2 separate regions of the Homo sapiens genome follow, and region 1 is linked to region 2. Evidence: fine-mapped expression QTL. A gene starts in region 2. The other region holds a variant in brackets. All regions are shown on one strand. Distances are between the middles of the regions. Region 1 has its middle 190 kb from the start of GXYLT1. Region 2 holds the start of PDZRN4 (PDZ domain containing ring finger 4).

What was found. PIP is the estimated chance that this variant, and not a neighbour inherited with it, causes the effect. A credible set is the group of variants that fine-mapping cannot tell apart.
Region 1: its variant is the best candidate, but not a certain one, in a credible set for the expression of PDZRN4 in aorta (GTEx, PIP 0.62).

Annotation. Positions count from the first base shown.
Region 1 is chr12:41,953,540-41,958,926 of GRCh38, forward strand. No RefSeq gene overlaps it. Among named protein-coding and RNA genes, the nearest start is that of GXYLT1, 190 kb to the right of the region's middle. The variant C/CA (reference allele first, on the strand shown) is at 3,035.
Region 2 is chr12:41,185,666-41,191,052 of GRCh38, forward strand. PDZRN4 (PDZ domain containing ring finger 4) reads left to right here and starts at 2,655. Exons shown (of 10, transcript NM_001164595.2): 1 at 2,655-3,438. The coding sequence starts at 2,791. LOC124903069 (a long non-coding RNA gene) reads right to left here and starts at 2,567. Exons shown (of 2, transcript XR_007063563.1): 1 at 2,136-2,567; 2 at 1-1,665.

The DNA.
Region 1 (5,387 bases), 770 kb after region 2:
CCAAGATGTTAATCCCACACTCAGGACCCAGCTACCTAATTTTCAGGGTAACCCAATGTAAAGTGAAATTGTAGGGCCCTTTGTTCAAATGTTATTAGGAATTTCAAGATGGCAACAGCACAGCATAAAACCAAGCACAGGATCCCTCTTAGTGTGGGCCCAGTGTGACTGTGCAGGCTACACACTGACAAAGCCACCCAGCCCTTACCTGCCTTCCTCCTCTCACCTTCCTGCTCACCTATTAAAAAGGAAAACAACCTAATTAAGTTAATCGTATGAGCTGAATAAATTAATTATACTAATAGAGGAAAGACCTGTAAGGTTTTACTTGACAATGTACTAAAAAACAAACAGGAAAAAAAAGACTGCTTAAATCCTGGACTAATTTTTAGAAGTAAAGAGAATATGTCTAAGAAGATTGTGGATGGTAAAGCATTTTAAAATCATTTTACAGAATAAAAAACAAGTTTAGTCTAAAATGTGTCTAGTTCAAAGGAGAAAAGGTTTGTAGGTCAAGAAAATACAGCATGGTATCTACTAGTCTCACAAACTCAGGACTTGAGCTAGCTCCTAATACCTAAATAGGATTTGATGAGGACTAGGGGTTAGGGAGGGCACCACAGGCAAGGGACCAACATATATCAAACAGCAGAAAGCTTCTTGGTGGAATTCTCTTGCCACATACAAGGAAGATGAGGCTTCTATTTCCCTTATATACTACTCTGAGGTATATCACGTTCAAATTACTGAAAAGAAAAGAAAAAGAAAAAATCTTGAAGGAACCAGAGAAGAAAAAGACATGTTACATACAGAGGAACAAAGATAAGAATTGTAGCCAACTTCTCATCGGAAACCGTACAAAACAGAAGACAAGGGGGTGACATCTTTAAAGTGCTGGAAATTTTTAAATGCCAACCAGAATTCTACACCCAGCAAAAGTCTCCTTCAAAAATGAAGGAGAAATACTTTCTCAGATAAATAAAAACTGAGGGAAGCCATTGCCTGCATACTTAACTCTATGAGAAGTACTGAAGGAAGTATGATATCTGTCTTAGTCTGTTCAGGCTGCCATAACAAAATACTACAGACTACGTGGCATAAACAACATTGATTTATTTTCTCACCGTTCTGGAGGTTAGAAGTTTGTGATGAGGATGCCGGCATGTTCTGGATCTGGAGAGGTCCATCTCCCTGGCTTGCAGACGGCTGCCTTCTTGCTGTGTCCTCACATGGTAAAGAGAAGAAAGCAGACTCTCTGGGGTCTCTTTTTATAAGACAGCAATCTTACCAGACCAGGGCCCCACCCTCATGATCTGATTACCTCCCAAAGACCCCATCTCCAAATATTATCACATTGGGGGTTAAGGCTTCAACATATGAACTTCATGGGACACGAACATTCAGTCCATAAAAATATCAGACTGAAACCTCAATCTACATTAAAAAACAAAAAGAAAAAAAAGAAAATAGGCCGGGCACGGTGGCTCACACCTGTAATCCCAGGACTTTGGGAGGCCGAGGCGGGTGGATCACGAGGTCAGGAGATCAAGACCATCCTGGCTAACACGGTGAAACCCCGTCTCTACTAAAAATACAAAAAATTAGCCAGGCGTGGTGGCGGGCACCTGTAGTCCCCGATATTCAGGAGGCTGAGGCAGGACAATGGCATGAACCTGGGAGGCGGAGCTTGCAGTGAGCCGAGATCATGCCACTGCCCTCCAGCCTGGGCAACAGAGCTAGACTCCGTCTCAAAAAAAAAAAAAAAAAGAAAATGAAGAGCACTGGAAATAGAATACATGAAGCTCCAGCAGAATGGGGAACATTACCTAGTTTTTCACTGCCAGGTCTCCAATAGTTGGAACAGTATCTAGGATGTGGTCAGAAGTATTTAGAATAAATACTTCTAAATGAGTGAATGAATATCAGAATAAGTGAACATATGCCTGATGAATTGATGTGGATTTTGAGGAATCTAAATGATGATCAGTAGCTCAGTGGTATGATGATAATCTCATTTAGGCAACCAATTTTATACTGGGTCTCATAAAAATTAATTCCCAGAGTTTTTAGTTTCAGATCAGCAGGATTCCATTCTTTTCTAGCATTCTTTTATAGTAAGACAATTTCTCTCACTACAATTGCTTTAGCAATCCTGCTAAATAAGAGCAGAGTTTCATGTAAATATGAAAATGAGCATTCAGATTTAGAAATAATTATGTAGAGCTACACTATAAAAATGCTGAAAGAAGCACAGTTAAATTGTAGAGGAATTGAAAATGAAATATAAAAATATATACATACTCTATGATTCCACTTAAAAAGCAAACTAATCTATAGTAAAACAAATGTGTAAATTAGTTTATTCTGGAAAAATTGACTAGAAAGGGGTGCAAGTGAACTTTTTGGAATGATTTTTTAAATGTCTATATCTTCATAGGAATGCAGGACATCCAGGTGCATGCATTTGTCAAAACTCAGCAAATCGGACTCCAGATTTATGCCTGTGATTGTATACAATTTTTATCCTCAAAATAATTATAAATAAAGATTGAACTCTAGTACATAGGTTTACTTTTGGCAATAGTATGAGTTAAGAATTCTAGCACTAGTTTCTAAGTCTGAATAAATTAGTAAATATTTTGGATAGTGGCAGCCAGGTTTTTCACTGTTGGAGATGAAAGTTACAAATATGGAAAGGGGAAGGCTGCAATAAAAAGCCTATGATGTTGAGTTGGAATTGGAGGTATGAGAAATAACCCAGGATTTCTAACACATAGATGATAAGTAGAAGAGAAATAACTATAAATATGTGTGTGTGCATGTGTGTTTCCTAGCTGTGTACACTGAGAGCTACTTACACTAGAAGTAAATTGCACTCCGGTATTAACACCTGCCAGAGCTTGGTTTTTATTTAGCATTCTCCCCTAAAAAGAACCAAAGCTCTGTGGGAAAAAAAAGATTGATTTCAGGGTTATGGCAGAATAAGTACAAAATGAGCCTGGAACATCTTGTGCGAGAAAATACAAAAGTGTTC[C/CA]AAAAAAAATGATGGAAACATGCCCAAAAGACACAAAAGCCAGCTTCAGATTTCCACTGACCACATGCAAGACATTTAAAGCAACAAAATAAATAGTGATAGTAATGAATTATGACTCATTGACTAAAATAAGAATCCATGAGTCCATACTGATAAAAATAAATAATTAGTTAGATTAATGGAGGACAAGGGAAAACATTTTCTGACAGTAGAATGCTAATGCATATAAAATAAAGGATGGGTGTTAGAAAATCACTAACGAATGCTAAAATTGGTAAGCAAACCAATTTGATGAAGAGCAAGATATGTACAAAATCTCAAAGCATCTCCCCATAAATTACTTATTAATTATAAAGAAAAAATAGTAACTTTCATTGGAAAAATCTTGCAGACGTCATCTTAAGCAAGTGATAAAGTTTAACAATACTGAAATTGGAACAAATCAACATCATAGGCATCCCAATACAATAATGCACTGAGAAAGACACAACAAACATCACTTCTTTGTTGTTGTTGTTTGTTTGTTTGTTTTGTTTTGTTTTGTTTTGTTTTGTTTTGTTTTGTTTTAAACTGAGTCCCTCTCTGTCGCCCAGGCTGGAGTGCAGTGGCACGTTCTCAGCTCACTGTAACCTCCACTACTGGGTTCAAGCAATTCTCTTGCCTCAGCCTCCCGAGCAGCTGGGATTATAGGCACACACCACCGTGCCCAGCTAATTTTTTTGTATTTTTAGTAGAGACAGTGTTTCACCATGTTAGCCAGGCTGGTCTCAAACTCCTGACCTCAGGTGATCTGCCCGCCTCGGCTTCCCAAAGTGCTGGGATTACAGGCGTGAGTCAGCGTGCCTGGCCCACAACATCACCTATATGGTTTTCTTGCCACACATCTGTAACCCAAATCTAAGCATAAGGAAATATCACACAAGTCAATTGAGCAATATTCTACAAAATAACTGGCCTGTACTATGCAAAATTTCAAAGTCAAAAACACAAAGGCTGAAGAATTGTTCCAGACTGAATGACAGTAAAGAGACATGACAATTAAAAATAATGAGTGATCCTAGACTGATCTTGGAGAATGGACAATATTTGAATATGGACTGTCGATTAAATCATTGTACTGTGTCAATGTTACAACTCTTGATTTTGATCATTATACCGTGGTTATTGTCAGAGGTTTCCTTGTTCAAAGGAAAGACACACTACCACATATAATCTTAAAGGAACATGATGTATCTGAGGTCTTATAACTTACTCTGAAGTGGTGCAGGAAAAAAATTCTATCTATATTTTATATACACACATATATGTATGTAAAATACTCCATTTACCCTGATTTGGTCACTACACATTATATGCCTGTATCACAACAGCACACACTGTGGATGTGGATTAAATCATTGCACTGTGGATTACACACATATATGTATATAATTATATACACAGAATTATAAAGCAAGTGGAGAAAAATATGCGTGTATAAACTTGGCAAATGTGGATAAAAGGTATATAGAAGTTCCTTGTACTATTCTTGTGAATTTTCTGTAAGCTCAAATTATATCAAAATAGAAACCTTTTTTTTTAAAAAAAATGAAAGGGAATATTTAAGGATATAGCAAGAACCTTCAATTCTGAACAATGTCATTAGGATCATGTGACTAATAACATCCAGAATCCCTCACTCAGCTTCATAGAGTGTCAGTATAGAAGGTTGTAAGCTTTTATTTTCCCTGGAAGTCATAAATCTATAATCTTTTTTTGCAAGACAAATATGTAATGAATGTGTAAACTATGCAATAATCCTTCCTTTTAAAACATGTATTTTTAGTTATTATAGGTACATAATAGTTGTATGTATTTGTTGGGTGCATGTGCTGTTTTGATACAGGCATACAATGTGTAATGATCAAATCAGAGCCATTGAGGTGTCTATCACCTCAAGCATTTATCATTTCTCTATGTTAAGAACATTCCAATTCCATTATTTTAGTTATTTTAAAATATACAATAAATTATTGTTAACTGTAGTCACCCTGTTGTGCTACCAAATACTGGATCTTATTCCTTCTATCTAACTGTACTTATTTAATAAGAAGAAATCATTTCTTTCAGACCCTCGGTTACAAACCTTCATGGAAGGAGCAGGATATCTACCATTGTTGAAGACCTACCATGTGGGAGGGAACACAGTAAAGGCTCACGCTGTGGAAACTGTAGACCCAGGTGTGAAGCCCCCTCAGTTCCTTACTATGTAGCATCAACAAGTCACTTAACCTCTCTGATTTCTCATCGATAAAATGGAAATAAGAGTGTCATCTAACTAAGTTGAGTGAAGAGTAAAAATAATATATGTAAG
Region 2 (5,387 bases):
TGAGAAATGTAAAAGGCTTGGTTTTGGCTACAACGCACAACACAGCTAGAAGTTGGCCTTGCCCAACAAGAAGACAGTGGGTTTCCTTTCAGCTCTTCCCCAAGTGTTAGTATTCAGCCTGCAATTTTCACTATCCAGGGATGTTTAGATGATAGACAATTATGATCAGTGAAAACATAAGAGTATGCCCAAGCTAAAGATGCAAGGTGTTAATTTGTCTAATTTGCCAAAAAGCATCTAAATATTACTGGGTCTGTTTTGCTGAAATATTTGTGCATATATTAAACTCATTTAAAGTGCTTTCTTTGTTTACCCAAGCTAATTACTTCCATTTAATTAGGCTCCATATTCCTAGCTCACTCAAGCTTTTCACTGATATTACAATTTTGCTAATATGTAGAAAAATATTTTACAGTCTGGGAAGTGAAACGAGACTATCTGACTCAACTGATGTCACAGACTTATGCCACAATGTTTCCAGATGGCAAAAGTTTATGAGGTTCACTTGGGTGTGTCCATTCTCTTAGAGTTCAATTCTTGTCATGTTTTTTCTTTATACTTAGCTCTTTTGGAAATGCTTAGGCTTTTATTTTATTACGTAAAAGATTTTCCTGTTCTGTTTGGCCTATTTCATTACTCAGTTTCACTTTACATGCCCTCATTTTGGAACTTCCTATTCTCTGTGGACAACGTTTTTGACATCTGCTTTACTTTAATAATAAAAATGTTATGCATCCTGGAATTAGTCATAACATAATTTGCTCATGCTCCTTACTTTTGCTATAGGAATTGCATGGGTATACCAAGGATATCATATGAACTTTTTTTTTTTCCAAGTAACTGAAGTCTCATGGTCCTAACAGTCTCATGTCTCAAAATAATATTTTTGGATTCCATCTCTTCTCTCTCTTTTTAAAAATGCTGTCAGTGTCATTGTGTTTACTGTAAAACCAATAAATGTCAAGCTATAGCTATAACTGTATATGCATGGTTATAATTATAAATGTTTATAGCTGTAAGTCACAACTTTTTCTATAGCTAAAAAAAGGAATAGATTTCTCCTGCCCAGAAGTATTTTAATAAATTCTAGAACATGTATTTCCAGTTTATGCAATTCACAAAAATATTTTCATGCTGTTAATATTAAATGATTTCTTATTTAATCAGTAATTCATTGTTTGCTTATTTATTTGTAGAAAGACAGGTCGAAAGAGGGGGGAAATTTGGAACATAGGGGCAAATGTTACTTTATCACATATGAATCTATATATATTAAATGAGAAATATAGCATCTTATTTTGAAAAAGAGTTTAAAAGCATATCAAACATCTAGCACACCAATCATCACTGGTTATTGAACAACTAACAAAATCTCATCTTTCAAACAGCAAGAAGGCTCAGAAGGTTATTAGCCTCTATTATTAGTCTTTGCTAATTCTTCAGTTAGCTCCAAGGATTTAAAAGACAAAGTCTGGAGCTGTTCTCATCAATTCCAACTGATGCCATTTGGTGTCATAGAGAATTACAAGCTTTCCAGGAACAAGGCTCAACTGGCAGCAAGGAATCATCAATGATTAATTTATAAAACCCACCCAAGCATCTGGTGGCAGCTTCAGGATAATGGCAGTAAGTGATATGCAGCCAGGTGACAGGATCTCTGCATTCCTAAGGTTCAGAAGATGGTAAAGGAAGTGGAGTAAGAAGGGTTTGGAATGACGCCCTACTGCGTGTTTTCAGGACGGCTTGTCATGCTACACAATTTGAGGAGTCAAACTAGGAGGGGAGGCAATTTGGATCCAAAGGGTTCATTCAGGGTAAGTAGAAGGAAGCAGCCACTAAGATTTTATTTATATGTTATTTCACTGCTTTCTTTCATCATCCTTCCCTTTAATTTTCCCTTCCAGGTTCCCAAATGATCACATTCCCGTCCCCAGTAGTAAAACGCCCGTGGAAGTAGAAGATGGATGCTGTGGCAACTGAACCTGGAGTCAGACTCAGAATCCCAGCTTCCTCACTCGGGAGGAGGCCTTGCATGGCTGTTCATGGGCTCCCTAAGAAGGCAGTGTCCTGAGGCGGGCCCTTGACTTTTTCCCCATCTTTGCTGCTAGGTCAAGGATCGCGCCATTCTAACTCACCTGATTTCTGGATCACGGTTTGAGAAGCCTGGCCCTGTGGATTTCCTAGTGTTATTTTCCTTATAGTGATTTCCTAAGGTCACAGTTTCCTAACTTCTGATTTTGTAGTTTTGATGTGAAAGAACAAAAGTGCTTCGATTTCAAACATATTGGAGATAGACTCGACGCCGGGCGGGCCATGGGCATTCAGCGGAAAACCAGACAGACAAAAAGATTCTGCTCTCCCGAAGCTTACATTGTGGTGAATTTAAAAGTTGTTTCTCAACATTAGCGCTTTACCCATCAGCAGCCCTGCCCAGGGCGAGGCGCCTCGATGCTTGAAGTTCACTGTTCAGGCGAAGGAGAACACAGTGTTCCCAAGGACCATTGTAAGCTGGGCGGCCAAAATTTGAAAGAACATAAATCGCAGGGCAACGAAGGAGGCGGGGGTCTCTGGAGGTTACTTCTATTAGCGTCAATACGGGCGAAATCAGGGGACCTAGCAGGAGCCTGAAAACTTCAAGCCAAACAAACAGTGAGATCACACCTCCCACCCGCCACCTCCCTCCACTGCCGCCGCCGCGAGACGGCTGCCCCGGGGGTGGCCCGGGGAAGGCAGGGGGGCTCGGAGAAGACGGACTCTGCTTTCGCTCCCCCTTTCTTCCCCATCCCTAACATGGGCTTTGCCCTGGAGCGCTTCGCAGAAGCCGTGGACCCGGCTCTGGAGTGCAAACTGTGCGGCCAGGTGCTTGAAGAGCCCCTGTGCACGCCGTGCGGGCACGTCTTCTGCGCCAGCTGCCTGTTGCCCTGGGCGGTGCGGAGGCGCCGGTGCCCGCTGCAGTGCCAGCCCTTGGCGCCCGGCGAGCTGTACCGGGTGCTGCCGCTGCGCAGCCTCATCCAGAAGCTGCGAGTCCAGTGCGACTACCGCGCCCGCGGCTGCGGCCACTCGGTCAGGCTGCACGAGCTGGAGGCGCACGTCGAGCACTGCGACTTCGGCCCTGCCCGCCGGCTCCGCAGCCGCGGGGGCTGCGCTTCGGGGCTGGGCGGTGGTGAGGTGCCCGCGCGGGGGGGCTGCGGTCCGACACCCAGGGCTGGCCGGGGCGGGGGCGCGCGCGGGGGGCCGCCGGGCGGCCGCTGGGGCCGCGGGCGGGGACCCGGGCCTCGGGTCCTCGCCTGGAGGCGGCGCGAGAAGGCGCTGCTGGCGCAGCTCTGGGCGCTGCAGGGCGAGGTGCAGCTCACGGCGCGCAGGTACCAGGAGAAGTTCACCCAATACATGGCTCACGTCCGCAACTTCGTCGGCGACCTCGGTGGCGGCCACCGCAGGGTAAGCAAAGGGGGGTGGGCACCGCGGGCATGGTCGATTGGGGTGGGAAAAGGAGCGGTTCTTTCTGACGCTTCAGGATTCCTTTGGAATTGGGCATCCTTCCTCACTATGCAGCAGGAAACATCCACACCCTGATCATACTTTCCTGTCATTATCTTACGAATGGATTGGCGTCGAAGTTAAGGATTGTCCCTTTTCTGATTATATTACGATTGGAAAGAGTTAAACAGATTCGATTCTAACTTTCCCCCGGGAAAGTAGGAATTGTGAAAACTCATTTTCCATCCAGACTCTCGTTTTCCATCTTTCACCCTCCTGCCCACCGTCTCTGCCTATTTTTTGAGCACTTGTCCCGTGCCTGAAGCAAATCCGAGAAGGAAAGACAGAAAGCGAAGACTTTCCCGGCCCAGCCTTTCCTCTCCCGCGGCCACCAGCATCCCCGCGGCCCTGGCAGCCGCGCACGCACACCTGGGACTGGTGTCAGCGTTGATGACACTTGCGCTGCCACTGCCTGAATCAACTGCCTTCTATTAAGTTGGGGACTGTGAGGCACGTTGGGGCCAGGACAGCCTCAGGAGTTGAGAGATGGGGTTTCTTAGACTTGCAGAGTTCATTTCATCACTCTGACTTTCCCTAAATAAGCCTTCCTTGCCTCGGGATCTCATTATTGGTGGAGAGAGAGAGAGAGATTGAGATTGTGTGTGTGCGACCTGGGAAGTCCAGTCCGAGAACCTCCATCTGTGGTCAGACCGGCCCTGCGAGCCCCCAGGCAGCGGTTGTTTCCCTTCTTTGTCTAAGCTGCTGGCCCCGAACTGCGCTCCTGGTCCTCCCGCCGGCTTTCATACCGAATAAACAAGCCTCTTTGCAGCATCCCGTGTGAAGAGGCTTGTTTATAAAGCTGTTACTTCTCTCCTGGAGGACTTCTGCACAGTGTCTGACATTGTTGGTCGCTGCCATGGTGAGCAGGGATTTAGCAGAATTTGCGCACCATTCAAGGAGCTGTTTTCATTCTTCAGCACTCCCGGGGAGGAGCAACCCAGAAAGATTCCCATTTGGGACTGGCTGCTCCACACTGCCTCTAACTCAGGCACTGAGTTTAGAAGCGCCCGTCTTGAACGTAAAAGAGAAAATTGAAGTGAGAGGGACTAAAATGTTTCTACCTTGATGAATGGAAGCACGTTGTGTATTAAACGACCGGTTTCAAGGAGTATTTCTCTAGTTCATATATGCATATACATATACGCATATATACAGGTAAATTTACAAAACGGGAGGACCCGGGGAAAAGCACAGATAGAAGCTTTGTATTACCAGTCCAGGTTTCAAGGTCGTAGGAAACCAATGGTTGAAGGAAAGGAGGAACAGCTAGAATAATATTACAGAAAAGTCCATGCAACAAGTCAAGCTATGATTCTGAGAAGTGAGAAAAACTGCCCATGATTTGCAGACTAGCCAAAACCTTCTATGTGTTCCTCAGAAGTGTTTTTCTACTACCAGTAGGGGCTGCTCTGCGCATTGCCTGGGAAAAGCTCCTGGGAAAATATCTTGATGCTGATAGCAGTGATGATGATGCATATGTTCTGAATGTTATCATTCAGAAATAGTTTCCAAGTAAAGGTTAATAACATCTACAACCATGAATAAACCCACCTAGTCCAGCACTAATTCATCCTATGTGTAAGTTAGTCTTTACTAATAAACATTGTAGCTATAATTCATATTTGTTTTACTATTATTTGGCCAGCAGGAAAAAATACATACTACTTTACCTAGCACAAACCCTTATTTTTTTATTCTGCAGGAATTATGCAAAACCAAATAGGAATATTATTTAAAATTAGGACTACAGTAGCCTAACAGATCCTGCATTACAACAGCAACATGAATGTTATGACTATAATTTATAAATAGTTCCAGTGTTTCTTAAATTCCTTAAGACTTTACAAAAT